3 separate regions of the Homo sapiens genome follow, and all the other regions are linked to region 2. Evidence: fine-mapped expression QTL. A gene starts in region 2. Each other region holds a variant in brackets. All regions are shown on one strand. Distances are between the middles of the regions.

Region 1 (7,741 bases), 120 kb before region 2:
ACGGGGGAAAAGCCATTAGCCTTAGGTACCATGCAGTGTTGGGTCTTTTCAACAATTAGAAATAAGCCTCAAAATAGCCCTGGTGAAAAAGTGCTGACTGAAACTCTATACTTCGTTTGTGCCTTGCCCCTTATTTAAGTTGCTTATACATCTAGAAAATTCATGCTCAGGCTTACCATGGCGTAGATTTATTTAGGAGAAACTATCCTGGAATTAAGAGAGCCAGGCCTGAGCTTCCCCTGTATATACTGAATACCAAATTTGGAGACAGCTGTGGACTAGGAATGTGTCTCCCCCTTTGATGTAGTGACTAGGTCAGCCCAAATTTCCATTTCAGAAAGAAACTACTTCCAATGGGAAGCATCTCATACCCATCTTATGTGGCCCAGGTGTCCCTTCAGCTTTCTCCATCGCTTTCCACGGCTCTTTGTGATACGCAGACCCAGCACAGAGCTTTGGCTGCCTGCAGGCAACGCTGTGAGTGTCGGGCTCTGGAAAGTGGCTTGCATCTCTTGGACACACACCTGCAAGTGGATTCCAACACGATTAGAAACTCTGGGCTTGGTATTTCACAGTAAGCCTTATGAAAGGAATGAGCAAGGCCGCTAGAACAGTCATTTTTTTTAAAAAGTTCTTCAGAGCGGTGGGGCTGCTGGTCTGGCAAGCAGCGTGTTTTCTGCTACTACTTCCCAGCAGGCAGGCTGGCCTTGTGAAATGAGCAGCTGTCTCAGGGTGAGCCTCTACAGTCTCAGGCAAGTGCTCAGAGGCCCCCACCGTTGGAAGTACCTCATCCTGGTGACAGCTTTCCAGTGTAAGACTGGATCACAGAGCAGACCTGGGCACGTTCCCCATGTAAGGAATGGGTTGGCTGGGTTCATGCACCGTAATGCCCTTTCCAGCTGCTACTCCAGGCAAGCCTACTTTATCCTGCCAGGGAGATGCTAAGCCCAATCCAGTGGCTTCCTGAGGGGACAGGACTTTAAAACCTTGCAGAACTCATGAAGACTGGGTCCAAAATAGCAGCCCTTAGTCATACCGCCTTCTACTTCACCAAGTTTGCCCCATCTAATGCCAGGTACCTGCCCTGTAAAGACCTGGAGGCCACCTCCAGCACCCAGAGACACAGTCACAGCAGAGCTCTGCTTCACAGTTACTGAGGCCTTACCATTGCTCTCAATGTGCCCATTGGCCTGAGGGCCACCCTCGGTCCTGACCACGGTTTCTTGTCGGTCAGAAAGGGTCCCCTGAGAAGAGAGGTAGCTTGGAACATCTGGTGGCACGACGGTTTCATCTGCAAGGAGACAGAACAAATAGAACACCAGGGTCTCAGTGACAAGAAATGCAGACACACGTTCACTGTCAAGCTCAGAAAGGGGATCCTCCCAGTGACGACCATCAGCGCTGTGCAGAGAGATGACATGGAGTCCATGTACGCAACAGGCCCTCCCAGAGCCTGCTCAGCTTTACTCTACACCCAGCGTGAAGAGCGCAGCCAGCAGATGCCAGACGCCACAAGAAGTGGAGACCAGTGATGGAAAGCCGGGGCTCACAGAAGTACCGCACTGTTTCAGGAACAACCTACTACGTGGCAGCAGGGCCTGTGCATAGGCGGCCTCTGAGTTAGCAAGGAGAGGGAAAACTGCATGGTGCGTCAGTTACTTGTATTTGTGAGTATTCCTGTTTAAGGTTAAATTTGAGAGTATTCCTGTTTAAGGTTAAGTTCCTCAAAGTTAAAATGGAATTAGTGGGACTAAACCCTCAGGAGTTCTGAACACAGTGCAATTCTTTCAAAAGCCACTGGAACCCGGCCCAGTTCCCCAGCATCACTGCCATTCCTCCCTCCTTGAAAGTCAGCTCCGCTGGCAGGGCCTGACCTGTGTTGGTGACACTGTACTCTTCACTCTTCTTCCTGGTCTGGTAGATGATGCACACCCAGACCAGTGACGTCAGGACGATGCTGCTCACGACAGCAATGGTGAAGATGCCTACCGTGGTCCCATCCTTCCTGCAGCCTGCTGCGGGCAGGACGCTCAGCTGGCTGTGAGCTCGCTCCGTGCCCAGGGTGTTGGACATCTCACAGGTATATCGGCCCGCATCCTCTGCCACCACGTTCTGAACCACCAGGAGCTGGTTGTCAGGGGTCAAGTGGTGCCGCTCAGTGAGGCTCAGCGGGCGGTCCCCCTTGAACCAGGTGATGCGGGGCGGAGGGTTCCCCGTGGCTTTGCATTGGAGGGCCACTGTTTCTCCCACAGATACCACACGGTCTTCCAAGGGGACCACCAAGGATGGGGTCTCTACAAGAGAGCAACAGAGATCTTAGTCATTCTCAGGGCCTCCGTTGCTCTGGCTCTGCCCGGTCTTCTGGACAACGGACAATCCAACATATCAATGAGATGCATCTGAGATTCTGTCTCAGAGTGGCAAGCTTTGGAGAAGACCCTTCAACTCATTGACTGAGTCATCTCCATGCTGGGAGTGGCTTCCACAGGGACAGTGAACCTCTGCTGACAAAAGCCCCTGCTATTCCCTAACTGTCCTGTGTCAGGCCTGTGTCCTTATTCTTGACCAAGCCCACATCCATCCTGTCCAATTCTTAAAATGTTCTGTAGCTCTTGACCAAGCCCACATCCATCCTGTCCAATTCTTAAAATGTTCTGTAGCTAAACCCTATGAAGACTCTTAATTCACCAGCTATCATTTCTTTTAAAGAGATAGAAACACTTGTTTAAGAAAAATTAACTCAACTCAAAAAGCAGCCCCAAATTTCAAACAGGGTCGAAAGGCCCACAACGCATACCACCCCTGGCCACACAGAGCATTTGAGAGTCTCTCTCTCTCGCTCACACACACACACACACACACACAGTAGAGCAATAGGCAAACCTAGGACAGTCAGGGTGGCATTAGCTGAAATAGAACCGGCTGAGTTCTGAGCAGTACAGCTGTAAACCCCTGCGTCATCTATTTTCACATCAGTGATGAAAAACACGTCGTCATCCGGCATGACATGCATGCGTCGCTCACGGGCAGCGGGGAAATCCGTGCCTCCATCCTTCTGCCAGGCAATCTGAGGGTTTGGGTGACCTGTGGCAGCACATTCGAGGCGGGCCATGGTGGTGGTCCGGATGGTTATGTCGTGGGGCGTTTTGGTGAATGATGGCAACACTGGAAAACATACGTATACAGGGTCGGGTTACGGGACAGCTAGATGCAAAACCAGGAAGTCCTCTGGCAAACACCTACCTGTCACTGTGCCCAGTGCCAGTTCACTTCTTTTCTCCCAATGTCTGCCCAGGACCACTCCTGCCACCTGTGAATCAGGAACCCCCAGCTTCTCCCACCACAGTTGGAACACTTCCATCCCATCAGCCTTGCATTGTACACCCTAGGCTGGCTATAGTCCCTTCAAAGCAAAGGCTTTTACTCTACATGGCAGTGCCTATACGGGAGTTGCAGGGGGTGCCCATCCACACTAGGTAGGCCTGATGCTTGCCTGCTTTACCCACCAAGAGAGAGGCTGTGGAGATGGAATTACAGAGGGAAGGTGGGCATGCCTCCACCTTGGGAGAGCAATGGGATGGCTCATCCGTTTGGATGGGTGTTCATGGGATGAATGGGATGGCTCATCCATTTGGATGGTTGTTCACCCAGGCTGTTCCTGCCCACTGCCGTATACCCAGGCAGGAAGCATTCAGCTTGCTAGCTTGCTCAGCCTAAAGATCGATGTCCTGACAGAGTGGGACGCATCCAGCCACGTGTCAGGCACCACCAGAGTTCCTGTCAACGTCAATTTTGGGGAGAGTCTAACAAACAGCTGAGTCTTTCGGAAGCTGTGAGGACTTGGAATAAGCCAAGACAACCCCACTACAGTGTGGTAAAGAAGGTGTTTCGCTGTGATCTGTGGGGGCTTAAAGAGCAAAGCAGATCCACCATTCTGATGATTCTCAAGCCAATTCTTTTTAACTAGAGAGTTAGTAATCAGGATAACCCCATTAGGTTACTGGGGTGGGACAGTAAACTCTTCAAGCTATCTACTCCCCACCCCCCTCCTCCAAACACACAATAACACATGGTCCCCTTGACAAGCTCCAAGGCTGGTTAATGAGTAAAAACCTGTCAACTGCCAGGACACTGTGTCTTTCAGGCCAGGGCTCACACCAGCCTTGCACTCCACAGTCTCTGGAGCAGTAGCTAGCCTCTGACTCCAATGCTGTGCCATCTACTCAAAGAACAGCAGCTTCCCCAGGCTAAGGGGTATTTGGAATTTGGAAGCCAGATCTCTTGGCTTATAGAGGATAAGAACTGGACAAAACAAGGCTTAGCTCTCCACAATTTGACTTAATAACTAGTTTTTGTTTTGTTTTTGAGACAGTCTCACTTTGACACCCAGGCTGGAATGCAGTGGAGTGATCTCGGCTCACTGCAACGTCCACCTCCTGGGTTCAAGCAATTCTTGTGCCTCAGCCTCCCAAGTAGCTGGGATTACAGGCATGTGCCACCACACCTGGCTAATTTTTGTATTTTTAGTAGAGACGGGGTTTCACTATGTTGGCCACACTAGTCTCGAACTCCTGGCTTCAAGTGATCTGCCCACCTCAGTCTCCCAACTGCTGGGATTACAGGCATGAGCCACAGCACCCGGCCAATAAC[T/G]AGATTTTTAAAACTCACCAAAAACAAGTAACTCATTGTGAATAACCCTTGAAATCTGCAAAACTTGCTCTGGGGCAAACCCAGGCAACAATAGGATTTAACAGTGCCCCACAGAAGCATGTGTGTGTCCTGTCTCAGTCATCTCTACATGGAAAGCTGAAAGGGCAATCAGGAGTGTGCTTTGTAGGATTCTGGTACTATAACAAAGATGGTGTTTCCATACCATTCACGGTGAGCCTGGCCTTATGTGAATAGGTGGAGCCAAAGTGGTTGGTGATGACACATTGGTAGCGGCCCTCGTGCCCGAAAGTGACCTGACGGAGGTGCAGGATGGTGGTGTACTCCATCACTTCCCCGTCCTGCGCGTGGACGTGGACAAAGTTCTCCATGTCTGCATTGGTCAGGACTTCATTGTCTTTCTTCCAGGCAAAGGTCATGGGGGAGCTGCTGCTGCTGGCTGCTGAGCATGTAAACCGGATGTCCTTGCCCACCATAGCCATGGTGGTTTCTGGCTGGGTGATGATCTGTGGCTTCAGGAAGTCATCTGGGGAGAGAAGGGTCAACTGTAAAGCGCTGGGTTCTTGGTACACAGAGGAACCAGCTGCTGTTCATGCTAACAGAAACTGACACAGACACCAAGCAGGAACCAGAGCTTGAGGTCCCTGTGCATCCTCAGCCCCACCAACCAGATGCCGTAAGAGTTGCACCATGGACATCTGACCTCATCTAATTAGAAGTCTGTGAGTACTGATCACCTTTATGATCACACTCCTTGATTAGAAATTAACCCACCACTTCTCAGTTCTCAAACCAGCCAGCCGGCAGTTTCCTTAAGACAACTGGCTCTGCCTGCTGACTTTCACACAAAACAGTCAGGCACCACTGGTCATGACTGCAGAGATCTTACCCACAAACCTTACTCCAAAAGGAGGGGGTGTAAAACACTTCCAAAATGTCAGAATAAGGACCTCCAAAAATCTGCACCTCCATTAAAACAAGGAAAACACCTGGAAAAATGGTCAAAAGCAACTTTTTCAGAATTCTGGAAAACCAAAGGCTTACAACAATCCATGGATTGTTGATTCAAGCAAATAGCAACATCTCAGAAATGTGAGCTTTGTGGTATTTTAACTTATCCAAAGCCCCATTCTTCCCTCCCCAGCTCCATGGTAGCCTTGAAACCCAGCAGCCTAGCAACCACTCAAGGGTCAGAATGGGCTCCCCAAAAGCCCCATCCTCAGAACTGACACCATGTGGCCTATCTGGCAGCAACACGGAAAGCCCCATTCACAGGATTTGCATTGATTTGCCCTGATCTAGTTTGCCGAGCAGGAGAAGCCCTAGCCCCAGGGCACATGACTACAACAATCAGTAGCCACTGTTCAACAGCGCAGCTGTCTGAGGGGACAATACCCATGGGGCAAACAAGCAGCTGGCCAAAAAACTATAAAGGAAAATGTGGGGAATACAGTGTTAATGGTGGGCTTTGAAAAGGTCCAATACATTCCTGGGGATCTAGACAGCCACATGCAGGTGCAAGGCCATGTGCACACCCAGGAAAGACGTGAGGGGGTCCTCATTTGTCACCTGTGGCTGAGCATGACTGTCTACACAAATAGGAAGTGATGGCACACCCCAACACAAACACACAAGCCGTCGGTAAAGGATAGGAGACAGTGGTTGTGGTGACTTCTCTGTCCAACCATTAGCTAACCACTAAACTAAACAAGCAGGGACTTAAGGGGACGGACTTTATATAGCCTTTGTCCAGGAAAAGTCACTAGGCAAGCTGTAACAATAAACAGCAACAGCAGCAAATCCTGGGGGAGGAGAAAGGGAATATCCAATTTCCAGAGTTGCCACATTATTTTATTTTAAATGCCCAATTTTCAACAAAATATTATGAAACACTCAAACAGGAAAAAAAGCAGTCAACAGAAACTGTCTCTGAGGGAGCCCAGACTTAGATTCACTAAATAAACTTTTTAAATCGGCAATTATAGGCATATTCAAACACCTCAAGGAAACCATGTCTTAAAAAAAATATCGAAGGATAGTGGCCAGGTGGGGTGGCTCACGCCTATAATCCCAGCACTTTGGGAGGCTGAGGCAGGAGGATCATGAGGTCAGGAGATCAAGACCATCCTGGCTAACATGGGGAAACCCTGTCTCTACTAAAAATACAAAAAAAAAAAAAAAATTAGCCGGGTGTGGTGGCAGGTGCCTGTAGTCCCAGCTACTAGGGAGGCCGAGGCAGGAGAATGGCATGAACCCAGGAGGCGGAGCTTGCAGTGAGCCAAGATCACGCCACTGCCCTCCAGCCTGGGTGACAGAGCAAGACTCTGTCTCAAAAAAAAAAAAAAAAAAAAAAAAAAGGATAAAGTATGAGAAAATTTTATAGCAATAAAGAGAAATTATAGATATGAACCAAGTAGAAATTTTGAAACTTAGAAGTACAATAACTGAAATGAAAAATTCACTAGAGGGGCTTGACAGCAGAACTGAGCTGGCAGAAGGAGGGGGCAGGGAACTTGAGACAGTCAACTGAGATTATGTAGTCTGAGAAACAAAGAAAAAAGAATGAGGTAAAATGAAAAGAACCACAGAGACTTGTGGGACAGCATCAAGCACAACAACATACAAATCATGGGAGTCCAAGAAGGAGAAGAAAGAAAAAGGAAGAGAAAAAGTATCTGCAAAACAATGGCCCCAAATTTGATGAAAAATGTGCAGCCACACATCCAAGAATCTTAATGAACTCCAAGTAGAGTAAATTCAAAGATCCAAACGCAGATTCATCATAGTCAAGCTGTCAGGTGCCAAAGACAAAGAATCTTGAAAACGCAAAAGAGGAGCAACTCATCACATTCAAGGGATCTTCATTATTATTAACGGCTGATTTCTTACCAGAACCCACAGAGAACAGAAGGCAGTAGGAAGATATTCAAATTACTGAAAGAAAAACGTTCAACTATGAATTCTATGTATTAAAAAACCTATCCTTCAAAAATGAAGGGGAAATTAAAACATTCCGATGTTTTTATTTTAAACACACACAGAGCAAGTTGACTGTTATCAGGCCTGCCCCACA
Region 2 (7,741 bases):
TCAAAGGATAGCCATTTTGCACTGCATACTGTGTTGCTACATACTAACCAGAAATCATGCTGCTCATATCTTAAAATCGAATCAGTCAACACCATAATCAGTATACTAAAGTCTACTGATGCTCAAAATACCCACTTTGGTATTTCTCGATCATCAAATGTGTGAGTAAAAGAGAAGGACTTCAATTTTGAAGGTATTTATGCCATGTGAAATGTCACTCCTAGGCAACAGAAAGCCTAAAGAAATAACCAGTATGTTTTGCTCCAAAAATTAAAGGGCAAGGCAAAGTGGATCTTGTGACCATAGGAAAGTGCAAATAAGAGGACACCCTGCCCTCTCTGGGAAGTTACTTCTGTGGAACTAAGTGCTTTCCCCACAATGCCACTGACACATGGCATTGGGAGTCACTCTTCCAACAGGTGAACACTTAAGAAGTTAATCTGATTTTGCCCACATGATTCTATTTAAAAAAAAAAAAAAAAACTACCGTATGTAAGGGAAAAATCACAATACCCCAGACTAAATAAGAGACTACCTAAGGACAATACTGGGCTCTATCTCCCAGTACTTCACAAAAGCTCTGCCTCCACCCTACGACCACTGATTTTCACTAACTCAGTAAATTCCACAGAAGAAGTAGATATTGAAAACCTAACTGTAACTAAAGGGTTCCTGGTTGTCTTCAGAACTCTGTAGTACTTGTTCATGGAGCAGTGTCTCGGGCCAAGTTAAAGATTCGTGCCCCATTTTGAGAGGTACAGGATCTTTACATTTAAAAGGAATTAACTTTTCTTCCCTTCACGGTAGTCAGAACACAGGCCACATTTTCTTCGATCAAGCCACAGGTGCTGGTTACAACTTGTGACACCAGTTTTCTCTTTTTAAAACAGCCATAGTCATGCCTAAGGTTACTGCTGTGCCTTTCCTATGTTCTAGGAAAAATGTCCAATTATTCAACCGAAATGCGGACTATTTAAGCTAGGCCTTTTCTGGAAAGGTACTAATGGTTCTACAGAGATGCTAATTACCCATAACTGAACGGGATTTGACTCATGCACCAGATTTGTTAGAAGTAAAAGAAGACTATTCTATTCTACCATGTTTACACAGAAGTCTAATGCCTTTTTTTTCCTGTCAAATCTCCTGTAAGAAGTGTCCCACTAAGTCCTAATAAGCCCACATCCTGACAGCACAGAAAAGAACCTCTTTCGGGTGAAACAAACAGCTTAAATCAGCCAAGCCCCTGGCACCCTCTCCTGAAGCAGCACTTCTCCAAAACTCATTTGCACCATTTATGGAGGAGAGAGTCTTGAGGGTGGGCCCCACCCCACTGGATCATCAAGCCCAATGGGGCCCCAGGGAACACACAGGAAGGGTCTGGAACACAGTTCCGTAAAATGCCAAACAGGCGTAAAAGGACAAACTCCCAGCACTCACAGGTCGCCAGGAACTGTCAAAGCCCTCTAACTCAGGGGTCCTCGGGGGAAGACTGCCTTCTGCCCCGCACAGAGAGGCAAGTCAGGCCACCACGGTCTTCGGGGATCAGGAGACGGCTACACACACTATCAACTAATAAATAATGTAAACGAAAGACTGGACCCAACAGTCACCTTCATTCATTACCCACTGGAAGACCAAGGAGCTCAGACACCAAATAGTTGGATTACAGGAGAGGAAAAGGAAACGCACCCACATACCCCCACAGACTTCTTCACACTCTTCTCCAGACGTTTCCCACCCACCCACCCGCAAACACACTCAGCTCCAGACTCCCACTCACTCACCCCCAGATGGCCCGCACGACGCGTGCTGGCTAACCCCCAAATCTCTACGACCCACGCTCGCTCGTCTCCAGACCCCACGAGGCACGCTCTTCTTCTCCAGGCTCTCTCGCACGCCTACTCCCCCGGACCTCCACGCAGAATCTCCCTTCCGCCACTCCAACCTGACAGTCTTCCAACACGCACAAGCACGCACAACTCCACACACACAACCCAGTCCGCACCCCCTCCCTGAGTACGAACCCCCGCCGCTCCATCCCCAAGTGACAGAGCCCCGGGGCGCAGAGAGGGCGGAAAGGGCGGCACTCACAGGCTCCGCGTCCAGGAGGGCAGGTCCCCGGGCAACGCAGCCAGCCCGCGCCCACCGCAGTCCAGCGAGTCCCCAGCGCAAGTGCAGGCGGCCGCGCAGGGCGCCCGCGGGCCGGCCGCGGCGGTCACCGGCTCCAGCCGAAGCAAAAGCAGCCAGAGAAGGAGAAGGCAAGGCGAGCGGCGCGGGGCCCCGAGCCCTCCCCGGACCGGCCGCGCCATCTTGTCTGGAGCGCGCTGCGAACTCCGGGCGCGGGGACTGTGAGGACCCGAACGGCCGCAGACGCGGGCGGGCCCGCGGGGCGCTCCGCTCGGCTCTAGACTCCGCACCGGGGCATGGCCCCCGCCCCAAGTTCTCTCTGCGGCCGCGGCTCCGGCACTCAGCGTGCCCCCGGTGCCCGGGCCGCTCCGGAGCACCCGGCGGGGGCCGCAAACCCCGCGCCCATCCGGGCCGGCCGGCCCGCCCGCGCTAGCTGCGAACTCCGCCGATTCGGGCAAGGTGTACCCAGCCTGCGCTCTTCGTCCGCCCGGGGCACGCCGAGTGCCGCTACCGACACCGGCCGAGGGCAGTGCTGCCGCTGCGCCTGGAAGACAGGCGTTCAGCCCCGCAGCCCGAGCTCGGTGCCGGCAGGCATCTTCCTCTGGGCTCGGAGCGCAAAGCCGTAGACCTCGGGCTGGACGGCGCGGCCGGCCCCGCGCTGGGAGGCCCCAGTGCGCCTCGCTGTCCCCACGCCGCGGCCAGAGAGCGCGCGCGCGCGCGCAGCCTCGGGTTCCGCACGGCTCCTCCGCGCAGCAAGAGTCCCGCCGACCTCGCAGCCGAACAATCAGCCGCTTGCTGTTCGCCTCCCCGCGGCCCAGCCCCGGCCGGTCCCCCAAGCCCCGCCCCCGGCCGCTCGCCCGCACACACCCCCTAGGCTCCGCGCTCCGCGGCCGCCTGCTGGCCCACGTTGGATGCTTTGCAACAGCGCCCCGCCACGCCTCCCCGCCTGCTGCTCATTGGCTGCCGGAGTCCACCGTGGCCAGCCTCGAGGGCCATTGGAGCGCTCGCTGTGATCCCGCCCCTCCCGCTTCACCGGCTACCCCGCCCCCACACTCTTTTCCCACCCAAGGTGTGAAGGGCGGGAGACTGGGAGGAGAAAGGGAGGGACGGCCCCCGCCTCTTAAAGGAGACACGCAGGTTGTTGTTGGAGAACGGGAACGCGGGCTGGGGAAAGGAGGCGTGAAGATACGCCCTCTGCGTCAAGAAGGGGAGAGAAAGTTAAGAGGGTAAAACGCCCCCGTTTTGGGGCTGTCTGGCCCCAAGGCTTTTTACGTCCTCCTCAGGCTGCAAGCAGGACTGCAGATTAGAAGCAAACCCGCGTCCGTTTTCCAGGTTCCTTCCAAAAGCGAAGACACAGGTTTAAAACTTAACACATTTCTTCCTGACTGGGACATCCTTGGTTATTTCATTAGGCGTGGTCCCCTTCCTCCTCGAGCAGCCTGGAGCATCTGCTCCTGACTTGTTCTTCACGTCCTAAATCCAGCAATATGTCCTTGATTACTAAAATGAATGTGTGCTGCAGAAACCTAGTCTCAAAGGTGCACCCTCGGCCAGGAGTGGTGGCTCACGCCTGTAATCCCAGCAGTTTGGCAGGCCAAGGCGGGCGGATCACCTGAGGTCAGGAATTCGAGACCAGCCTGGCCAACATGGTAAAACCCCGTCTGTACTAAAAATGAAAAATAAAAAAATTAGCCAGGTGTGGTGGTGCACACCTGTAATACCAGCTACGGGAGGCTGGGACAGGAGAGCTGCTTGAACCCCGGAGGCGGAGGCTGCAATGAGCAGAGACTTGTCACTGAATTGTCACTGAATTCCAGCCTGGGTGACAGAGCGAAACTCCGTCTCAAAAAAAAAAAAAAGTGCACTCTCCTTCCCAGCTAGTGAGTTGAAGGGTACTTCTAGAAATGCTGCAGCCTTTGATAAAGGGGTTGCTTTGTTGTTGTCATTGGGTTTTTGTTTTAATCAGAGTCTTTTTAAGATAATTTTCAAGAAGCCATTGTGTATTCGTAAGAGACAGAGTTAAAGGAGAAATAATAGTTAACAAAGCTTCTAACTTTTGCTCTTAAAGATCAGACCATAGTAGTAGTGTGTTACGATAGTACGTGGTAACATTAAGCAGACATACACACATTGAGAAAAAAAGAAAAAGATTACCACTGTAACATATAGCTGCCCTCTGGGCGTTTTGGTTTGCTAGTGTCTCATATCCCTTCCCAAGAGTATGCAAATTACTAACATAACTGCGCACATTGTCAGGAAGATTAAGCAGGTCAAGTCTGTTGAAAAACATTTGCTCCAGAACATTAAATCTGAGTTGTGTTTTATGGAAGTGGGGTGGGGTGGGAGGTAAAGAGGAGAAGTTGAACCTTAGGGAAAAAAGGCAAAAAAAAAAAAAAAATTAAAGGGTTTATTCCATTTTCGACACAATCTAAGAGGTTTGCTTTAATTGAGATGCACTAAATGTGTTAAACTTTCCCTCAGCCATAAGATCACCTCTTTTCTTTAGCCAAAATGTGATCTTCCTATCCCTTCCTCCCCTTTTTCCTTCTTCCCCTTCTGAATTCATTGCGCCTCATTTTTTTCTTGTTTAATTTTGCATGATCTCAGCAGTGATGCCCAAAGCAGTGCTCAAATATGTGGGTAAATCAATTCAAATCTAATTCCCAAGAAATATTATCAGAAAAATGCTGCACCTGACCCATCCCACCCAGAGCTTTAACCAGCTTTTATGTTTCATATGTAATCCAAATAAACATACACCTTCCATCTGGACGAGAAGAAATATGTCCTTTTGTTCTATCCCTTTTGGTAAATATAATAATAATAAGCAGTGGGAATGGAATTAAAAAGACCCTAAATTTATGAAGTCCTCTCAGTCAGTGTTTAAGTTTTACACAAAGAACACAAAACAGTAATTTGATGCAGAATACCCACAGCCGTTTCCTGAAATGAAACTGTCAGATCCTCCCTGTCCCCACCCCACAATAAAACAGCATATGCAGCAAAAAATGAATTGAACTGATTGAACTACTTGAGATGCTGACCTAAAATTATCTTTCAGGTTTGTCTCATTTCTAGTACTATAAAAGTGGGTAATTCTTGTAAAATGTTTTTTCAAATGTGTATGGGTGTACTTGTGAGATGCCTTTTTGGAATCTTAGTTTTCTGGAGGATAGAATTTAAGAATCTGCAAGGTGAGGGAGTGCCCACAAATCTAAAGCATCCCTTGTGGTCTGGTTACCATGCAGCCAGAGAAAAGGATTCCAAAGCCGGGGCACACTTGGGGGGACAGGGCGCCTAAGCCTTGGCAGTTCCTCTCGTCTACAGCAAAGCATGAAGTCATGTCTGCTCCCCATACCATGTATGGAAGTTTGCCCACATACTAGCAACCTGCTTGTGATTGCAATGAGAGTGTGAACTTGGAGAGCAGTGATATCCAGCTCAGGGGGGAATTCATCTGCAGCCACCACCTAAGATGAAGGAGATCTCAACAACAACAACAGCAAATGTCTAAGGGAATCTATGTCTCTGCTCATAAAAGTGCAAGTCTTGGTCCATTCAGCACAGAGCAACAGTTGATTTGGGTGCTGTAGGTCCTTATTTTCCTCACACTGCAACTTTGATCTTTCTAAATGCTTATTCCTTAAATGAGTCATCCGGGGATTTTAGATTTTCCAGTTCATTTTCATCTACCCCAGGGATAGCATGGAATCAAACCCCAGTGAGAATCTCTGCAGGTCTCTCTTGACTCCAGAAGCCCTAGCAGTTAATCATCCTAAGTTAATCATGCTTGAGAGAGGAACCCAAAATCTAAATAGCCTGAAATCTATTGGGGAGAGAAGCAAATAACAAAATAACAAGAAAGAAGGTTAACCATAGGAATTTTTTTTTTTAACACAACTTCCTGGGGACTGAATTTGTGCCAGTTTGCTATAGTTCTAGGTGGTGGTCTTTAGTGGTTTTAAAGAATGCTGAGATTCAGAGGGGCTTTCTTAATGTTAGGTGAGATTTTACACTGTGTTCAATACATTAAAAAAGCACCAGGTCACCATTCAGGAGAGCTGGGTTCCAGCCAGGCCTTGTTATGGGTGAAACCTTTGACCAGTCATTTTCTGTCTTGGAGCCTCAGTTTTCTCAAATAGAAAACAAGGGGCTGGGCACGGTGGCTCACGCCTGTGATCCCAGCACTTTGGGAGGCCGAGGTGGGGGGATCACCTGAGATCAGGAGTTCAAGACCAGCCTGGCCAACATGGTGAAACCTCATCTCTACTAAAAATACAAAAATTAGCCGGGTATGGTGGCACACACCTATAGTCCCAGCTACTTGGGAGGCTAAGGCAGGAGAATCGCTTGAACCCGGGAGGCGGAGGTTGCAGTGAGTCGAGATCGCACCATTGCACTCCAGCCTGGGTGACAAGAGCAAAACTCCATCTCAAAAAAAATATATATATAAAAGAAAAATAGAAAACAAGGATAATGGTACTTGACCTGGGTGCTGAGTGAGTAAAGAAGGATCATTTTGATAAAGGACCAAAGGGGCATTATAAACTGTTTACATCTCATTGTTTTCAAGGTGTTATTGATTTGTTAACTCTGAAAAACTGAGAGCCCATATGTATAATGTAGATGGAAAATCTTAGCAGGTTGTTTCAGCAGGAAAGTTTCTTGTCCAGGAATGTGACAAAGGGTTAATAATTAGCTATGAAACCCCTGAAGACTTGCAGGGTGATGACAGCCCTGCTTTGAGCCTGTTTTCTATCTCTCTTCCAAGGAAAATAAAACTGTGTACTCATTAACTCCTTCGTCGCAATAATCTTGTCAAGGAGATGGATGGGTGGAGAAGGTAAGAGAGGAGGCTAATGAGTCTGGGAATAGAATATAAAAAGAGAAAGATTTTGAGATCTCCCCATCCCCCATTCCAACATTTGCCTTTGGTGGAGGTAGTTTTCTTGTGCAATCTCTGGCTATTGGAATATTGGTTAATGCCCAGACAGTGCCAAGCTGCAGCTGCTGCAGTTCCACAGCAAGAATGGTTGTTGCCTGCAGCTCAGCTGTGACCCTTCACAGGATCTGCCCTCCTCCACAGAGCACCATCGACAGGGGCCAAAAACCTTTAGAGTCCACTTTCTAACACAAACTAGAACCTTGACACTTGTCCTTGCCTTGTGAATGTGAAATGTTTACTGGTTCACTGAAAGGATGAAAAAAAATATGTCAAAGGTATGAGCATTTCATAATTCTGAGATTGAGATTCTGGAGTAATGGTCATTGTAGGAGGCAGTCCCTTACCTCTGACGGTGATGATGATGGGATGGACTAATTACATCATCACCAGAGACCGCACCTCTCACTCCCAATCTGCTGCCTTTGCAAATGTCACTCCGAGAAGTACATGAGGGCGAGTGCAGGGAGGATTCAAAGTTTATGCCTCACTGCCAACCACTCAGAACTAACACTGCAATGTATATAAAGAACAGCACATTGATCATAACATAATAATAATCTTATGAAGTCATATACCTTACATTTTTCAAAGCACTGTCACATCATAACAACAGCTATCATTTACGGAGCACTTTTTATATGTCTTTCATGTTGTTGAGTGCTTTATGTA
Region 3 (7,741 bases), 110 kb before region 2:
AAAAACTTAGAATAAATGATGTCAACATATATGCAGGATACAAGATCAAGATACAAAATTCAATTACATTTCTGTATACTTGCAATAAATATTTCATTTTTGAAAATCCAAAAGTGAAATTAAGGATTTCATTTACAATAGCAAAAAGAATAAAAACAGAAATACCTTTAACAGTAGTTGAAGATGTGTACACTGAAAGTGACAAAACATGACTGAAAGAAATTTTTAAGAAGCTAAGAAAAAAGGGTGGACAGCCCATCTTCATGGATTGGGAAGACTTAATACTGTTAAGATGGCAATACTTCTCACATTAGTCTATAGATTCAATGCAACCCACATCCCACTTTCCTTTACTGCAGAAATTGACAAGCTGATCCAAAAAATTGTAAGGAAATGGCAAGGGATCCATAATAGACAAAACAATTTTGAAAAAGAATAAAATCAAAGGGCTTTGTAACACTAAGGTTATAAAACTCTTAGAAGAAAATAAAGGAGGAAATCTTTGTGACCTTATCTCAGGCAAATAGTTTCTTTGATATGACATCAAAAGCATACGTAATAAAAGAAAAAATAGAGATATTGAACTTCACCAAAATTAAAAACTTTTGCATTTCAACTATCAAGAAAATGAAAAATAGCCCTCCCTCAGACTGGGAGAAAATATTGGCACAACATGTATCTTATGAAGGTCTCATATCCAGAATACATAAAGAACTTTACAACTAAACATTGAAAAGACAAATGAATACTGGCAAATGATTTAAATAGCTGTTTTTCCAAAGAAGATATATATATATATGTATGTCCAATAAGCAGGTGAAAACATGCCTAACATCATTAATCATTAGGGAAGTGCAAATCAAAACCACCATGAGACTCTATTTTACACTCACGAGTACATCCAAAATAAAAAAGACAGTTAATAACACATGCTAGCAAAAATGGGGAGAAATTGGAATTCTCATGCATTGGTGATGGGCATGTAAAATCATGAAGCCACTCTGGAAAACAGTTTGGCAGTCCCTCAAAAAAGCTGAGCACAGAGTTAGCGTATGACCCAGCAATTCCATTCCTAGGTTTGTACCCAAGAGAATCACACAAAACCCTGTATATGAATTTTCACAGCAGCATTATTCATAATAGCCAAAAAGTGGGGACAATCTAATGTCCATCATCTGATAAACGGATAAATAAAATGTAAACCCATTTATTCAGCCATGAAAAACAGGAATGAAGTACTGATACATGCTTAAAAATTATGCTAAGTGAGAAAAGCCAGTTACAAGAGACCGTATACTGTATGGTTCCATTTATATTAAATGCCCAGAATAGGCAAATGATGGAGACACAATGAGATTAGTGCTATCAAGGGCCTGGGGGCAGAGAATAGGGAGTGATTACTAATGGTATGGGGATCCTTCTAGTGGTGATAAAAATGTTCTAAAATTAGATAATAGTGATGGTTACACAGTTGTGACTATTATAACAACCATCAATTTATATATTTTAAAGGGGTAAATTTTTATGATATATAAATTATATTTCTTTTTAAAAGCAGCTTTATTGAGAATACTTCATCTACACTACAACTCACTCATCTAAAGTATACAATTCAATGGTTTTTAGTATACTCACCAATATGGGCAACCATCACTACAGTCAATTTTACAACATTTTCATCACTTCAAAAAGAAATGCTGTACATTTTAGCTATTACCCCTCTCTTTCCATCCCTCCCCATCCTTAAACTACTACTAACCTAATCTCTACCTCCACAGATTTCCCCATTCTGGACATTTCTATGAATGGAATCATATAATCTAATGGTCTTTTGTGGCTGACTTCTTCCACTTAGCATGACATTGTCAAAGTTCATTCATGTTGCAGGACTACTGATTGCTTTCACAGCCTAATGAATATTCCATTGTATGGCTATACCACCTTTTGTTTATCCAGTCATCCACTGATACCTGGGTTGTGCCCATATTTTGGCCATTATGAATAATGCTGCTATGAACATTCATGAAGAAGTTTCTGTGTGAACATATACATTCATTTCTCTTAGGTATACACCCAAGAGTGGAACTGCCAGGTCATGTCGTAACTGGATGTTGAACTGAGGAACTGCCGAGACTGTTTTCCAAAGTGGCTGCCCCAGTTTACACTCCCACCAGCAGTGTAGGAGGGTTCTCCCTATCCTCAGCAACACTTGTTATTATCTGAGTTTTGGATTCTAGCTGTCCTAGTGGATGTGGAGTGCTTATGTTTCCGTTTTTAAAAAAGGAGTGGGAGACTCCCATAAAGCCTGAAACCTTGATCTTCTGCCAAGTGTTTTCATGATTCCCATTAACACCTGACGTTTTTAGAGGGGGGGAAGCTTGAGCTAAAATGTGGGGGTGGGGATGACAGATGTGAAATAAACAACTCTTGCAATCCAGAATATGCCAGGGCCACAGGCTGGGGGCTAGGTGAACTTACCAAAGTCCTACCTGGCTCACCCAGAGGGAAAGCCTGCCCTATGGCAGGAAAGGGGAGGGAGCGATGGAAAGCTTTATTTGAGGGAGGTCTATAAACAATTTAAGGGTCAAGGACTTGATGACAATGGGCCAATGAACAATGGATTATACAGCCATTTTGTGCCTGGATAATGGAGCTGTGCGAGCATTAGATTCCACACAGAAGGCTCCATAAGACAGATCGGTATGAAAAGTCAGTTTGGAGAGCTGCTGCCATGTTCGCAGTGGGTTTAAGACGTGTCCCTGGTCTGGATCCAGAGGAAGTTCAGCAGGCCTGTTCTCAAAAGTGGTGATGGTGAAGGTAGGGGTGGATGCATGGAGAGGGCACACACATCTTGCCTCCAGCAGGCACACTGGCTACTCCAGCAGGCACAATGGCTATTGCTATGGCCAGAAAGTAGGAGACAGAAGTGGCCCACAAGGGTTGCCATATGGATGGGTGAGTTCCTGGTTAGGATCCTCACAGCAGGGATCTCAAGGCTCAAGGGAGACCAGTGAGCACAAAAGGCAGGAGGGACTTAACACCTGCCCAGCAGTTCCAGTCAGGCCTGGGAATCCCACTCTTGCTCCTGCTTAGAGCAAGCAAACAGGAAAAACTCAAAATTCATCTCATTTTTTGACCATGTCTTCCTGACCGTGAGCCTGTGTCAGTCCTGTCTGAGCTAGCCTGCGTGTGTGTTTTCAGCTGTTCAGCATTTTCTGTGCTCTCTGCAACCAAACTTGGATCCCGACTCCCAGTCAAAAAGATGGCAAGAGCTACGCTCCAGGAATCAGAAGGCAAAAAGAATGTAAAGCTGCAAGTGCAGATTTCAGTGGTTTGGAGAAACAGCAAGAGTACAAGTCAACATCAAGGAATTATTTTTACTACAGCAACTGTTCTCCTGAGACTTGTTCTTCCTGTATTTAACCTTTCATTCTTGGGGTCGGAAAGAAACACACATTAAAACGCCAGCCTCGTACGCGGAGTACATTCGCAGCTAAACCCGGGCACCAGAGCCCTTCTGAAACAACAGAACTATCTTCCTGTAACTGATTATTCTGATTTGTAACTGAACCAACTTATACTCCCTTCTGATTAAATGCATGTCCTCCAAGAACCACATAATGAGGCAACTCTACGGTAAATACTGTGTGTGGTTTCAGCAAGAAATAAA[T/C]TGCATCCAGCAGCTGATCTGTAACCACGGGCTGGGGTTTACTCTGATCACAGGAATTACTCCCATAATGAAGAGTACCTCCTGGCTTCCTTGTCCTTCATGAAGGAGAGAAAAAGTTACAAAGACAGTCTTACCGCACACGAAACTCTCTGGTGGCACAGAGAAAATGCTCTGACCCTTCAGTGATTCTGGGTGGGCACAGGTGGCTGTCACAAAGGCCTGCAGCATCCTGCCAATTAGCCACGGGGGCAGCCACTTCAGCTGGCAGTCACACAGGAAGCTGTCGCTGCTGATATGGCTGAAAGAAACACAACAGTGGATGCTTCAGGTGCAGCCGCAAAGGAGGGACACTCCCTTCACACACACAATGATCAGTCGCCTCCAATCAGCTTCTCAAGTGAACATCAGCAAGCTGGAAGGGGGAAATGGTTTTTCTCACACTTCCTCTCCAATTTCCCAGGGCAGTGCATATAACCCACCTGGAGATTTTGAAAAAATGCAGTTGCTGATTGGGTGGGTCAGGAGTGGAACCCACGACTCTGCTAACAAGTTCACGTATCATGCTGGGGCTGCTGACCCAAGGACCGCAACTGGAGCAGCAGCAACGTGGAGCTTATCCATGCCATGTTCTGGGACAGACACTGTTCCTGTGTGACCCTGGGCTGCCTTCTGACCTCTCCTGACCTCTGATACATCCAACAGTGCTATGCTGCCACCATCCCCCCTCTGGTTTTTCCCACTTTCCTGATAAACTACTTGGAGCTTCCAAACTCGGCCTGAGACTTTGATCCAAATTCTGCAACAAGTTCCGAGGAGGGCTCTTTTGCCTCATGGCTGTTCCTTTTCCATTTGGCAAAGCTGCATGTTTTCTTACTTCCAAATGTAATAAGCCCCGTCACTGTGCCACCCTCTTGTTTGTGCCTTGATCTTTGCACCAGTATTCTTCAGGGGGCCGGCAGAATTCGGCTCTGCTCCCTAAATAGTGCTTGTTAGTTAATTGCCACTGCCCAGGGAGCATGAGAATGCACAACTTTAGCTTTGTGGGGCTCCAACCAAAACAGAGAATATTTTCTTTTTCATTTCTCAGCAACTAAGGATAAGCTTTTTAAACAGAAATCGGAATCGCCATCTCAGCGGACATTCCTTCCTGAGGAGTCACTTGAAGATAAGTCAACCAAGAGTCTAGCTGCCTTGTTCCTGGAAGACCTCAGAGCTGTGAGCTAAAGAATGATGGCTGGCCCACGATAAGGGAAGACTGGGAAAGAGAGCACACAGGCTTCCCTGCAATACACTGTCTCTGGTACATGGTGACAAACAGGAGGCACAGGTATGCGCAGAAATTCCAAAAACATCATGCAGGCCAAGAGCACGACTTTGGCTGCCTTCTCCACCCACCACTGTCCTCAGACATCAACAAAGCAACCAAATGGACTGGCCTTCCATTTTCTTCTGTTTCTCTCCAGATTTCTAATGAGCAGAGAAACTGTCACAGCAAGGAAGAATGAAGTGTAAGCAGATGACCCAAGGCTAAATTAAGTAAAATCCACTCTTCCTCATGTTCCCCATCACCCCTAGATGAGTTGGGCATCTTATTAAAATAATTATAATTTTGGAAAGTGCTTTTCCAAAAACAGAAATAACTTATCTCAAGGCCATTATAACTGGGATGCTGGCCCATATTAGATCTTAAAATCAGCATGAGAGTTTGCATTTTTATTTCACGGGCAGGTAGCGTTCTGCTGAGAGCCATCTGGAGGGCTGTCCTACTGTGGAGTCACTGCAGGTGGCGGAAGGGCTGTAACGGCCATCCCTGAGGAAATGGTCAATTCCCATGCAGTGTTTGGGGAGGGCAGCTCCCAGGAGTGCACCCTGCATGGGGGTCAGGGCTGGCTGCGCCAGGCATGGGGGGAACTCAGCCTGGATGGAGAACTCTCCGCTGTCAGAAGCACCTCCAGCTCCCCAGCAAGAGGGCACTTCCGTGCAGTCAGGCAGAACAGCCTGGGCACTGTTCACGAAAGCCTAGGAGAGAAGGCTGGGCCATCCCTGTGCGACGTTAAGCATTTGTGCAGGACACAAGGACATATTCCATTTGAACCACAGGAACAAACGGGAAAACAAATTTGACATTTATCTTTGATCAGACACATGTAGAAAGGGCTAAGCCTCATCCTACACACGCCCTGGACGTGTGGGGCTAACGCCTTTGAGGATTTCCTACTTCTTCCACCATGAAACCCACCTCAGACAGGAGGCCAGACTCCAGGAAGACAGTGGGTACTCAGGGTGGAGACAGCATGTTCCTAAACAGCAAGTTAGGACTGAGAGGATACATGGGGAGGGCCTGGGGCCAGGCAGTAGCGAGGATTCCAACCCCTAGGCTCTGCAGGCTCCTGCCGCCCTTCTTCCACCCGTGGAGAGCACAGCGCCATCGGCTCTACTGCCTTCTGCTGCCATCCCAGGGCTTTGCTGGCTCACATGGTGCATTTTCACGATTCCAACTCAAAGTGTGTTTCTAATCATCACTTGTGGAAATTTACCCAGAGGATGACTAAGTGCACAGTACAACCTGACTTGATCTGATGGAGAAAAAGACGACCAAGTGGAATTAACCATTTCTCTCATCTGAGGACTGGGCACAGGGCCGGCTCCAGCGAGGTATATGCAGCAACGATGGGAAACCCAGGCAGGAGACCGAGGCTGAGCCTCCAGAACCATGCAGAAGCACGCTGGAGGTCCAAGCTTCTGGAAGGGTCCAGTTCCTCCCAACTTCCCAAGGAAAATCTTATCCTCCTCCCTCCTTCTCTCAAAATACCTTCTTCCCGTTTAAATTGAATCAGGTATTTTTCAGTCCTGACATCATATCTGAAAGTTTCAAAGACAGAAAAGGTGAAAGAATTCCACAGTGAATGCTCCTGTGCCCCACCGCTTGTCTTCTACAACCAATGTTTCATTCCACTTGCTTTACTGCGAGTCCACCTCTGAGTCCAGCCTTCCCTTCCACGGTGGTCTGGAATCATCTCCTCCCCTGCTCTGGAAGGAGAGCCATGGAATCCTTTCTGTATGTTCCGTCTCACCCGACAGATGGAGGCAGAGCTGCTGAGGCTGGAAGAGGGAAGGCCCTGGGCACGGAGCAGCTGTCTGCAGAGCCCTGAGCTCCATGAACCCGTCACAGACACCCGCTCCAAGATCCAACCCTTGCAAGGACGGTATCTATTCAGCAGGCCTGAGGCTCACAGCATGCTGAACATCACAGGGCAAGTGCCCAGGCCACCTTCCCTCCTCACTCAGTCTGGTGTCACCCGGCCCGCTTCAGTTCCCAGCTATGGGGAATGCACCTCATTTCCCCAGTCCCAGCCTCCCTGCCCCAACTGAGGGTTCATCAAGAGTGGCCTCGGGGAATGGGGATGAGGTCAGGGCACAAAGATGACTGTCCTGTGGCATCTGCCATTCTGTCAGCACTTCTAGGAACCAAAAGTTACCCCTTCAGGGAACTGATATCATGGCTAGAACTTACTGGCTGTAGAATCAGATTCATGTCTAGCTAAAAAAAAAAAAAAAAAACCAGAAAGGAAAACTTGGGTGTTACACCTGAGGACCCAGACTAGCTCCCCTGCCAGAGTAGGATACAGGGAAGCTTTTCCAACCTTGTCACCCAAGAGCCCACAGTCCAAGTCCACAGTGGCAGCACCACCACCTGTGAACCGTGCCCAGAAAGCTTGGAAATGGTATGGGCAGACACCACTGCACCCCTAAGCATCCCATCCCCTCCAGAGCTCTGCCTTGCTCACAGCCCACCAGGCTCTGAAGTAGACCCTCTCAACACAGGCCTTTATCGTAAGCAAGCCCAAAAGATGAAAACTTGGCCCTGACATAATTGAAGGGGTGATTATCCACTTTATAGAGGAGAGTATATTTCACATTGCCTAGAATAGTGGTTAGCAAGCTTCAGCCTGCGGCCCGACTGCCTGCTTCTGTCAATGTGACTTTATGGGCACATAGCCACACCCACCTGCTTATGTAATGTCTATGGCTGCTTTCTGCTGCAATGATGCAATCAAGTAGTCATGACAG

Evidence for each region. PIP is the estimated chance that this variant, and not a neighbour inherited with it, causes the effect.
Region 1: its variant is fine-mapped to the expression of LRIG1 in whole blood (INTERVAL, PIP 0.95).
Region 3: its variant is fine-mapped to the expression of LRIG1 in whole blood (TOPMed, PIP above 0.99).

The regions. Positions count from the first base shown.
Region 1 is chr3:66,381,108-66,388,848 of GRCh38, forward strand. LRIG1 (leucine rich repeats and immunoglobulin like domains 1) reads right to left here. Exons shown (of 19, transcript NM_015541.3): 13 at 4,874-5,194; 14 at 2,884-3,165; 15 at 1,875-2,294; 16 at 1,166-1,291; 17 at 372-524. Among named protein-coding and RNA genes, the nearest start is that of LRIG1, 120 kb to the right of the region's middle. RefSeq lists enhancers at 2,090-2,589, 5,036-5,135, 5,596-5,765, 5,776-5,855, 5,886-5,945 and 1 more. The variant T/G (reference allele first, on the strand shown) is at 4,651.
Region 2 is chr3:66,498,099-66,505,839 of GRCh38, forward strand. It overlaps LRIG1 (leucine rich repeats and immunoglobulin like domains 1), which reads right to left and starts at 2,924. Exons shown (of 19, transcript NM_015541.3): 1 at 2,092-2,924. The coding sequence starts at 2,309. RefSeq lists enhancers at 2,020-2,520, 2,521-3,021 and silencers at 2,124-2,333, 2,354-2,433, 2,474-2,613, 2,634-3,293.
Region 3 is chr3:66,390,236-66,397,976 of GRCh38, forward strand. It overlaps LRIG1 (leucine rich repeats and immunoglobulin like domains 1), which reads right to left. Exons shown (of 19, transcript NM_015541.3): 12 at 3,805-3,968. Among named protein-coding and RNA genes, the nearest start is that of LRIG1, 110 kb to the right of the region's middle. RefSeq lists an enhancer at 3,373-3,422. The variant T/C (reference allele first, on the strand shown) is at 3,671.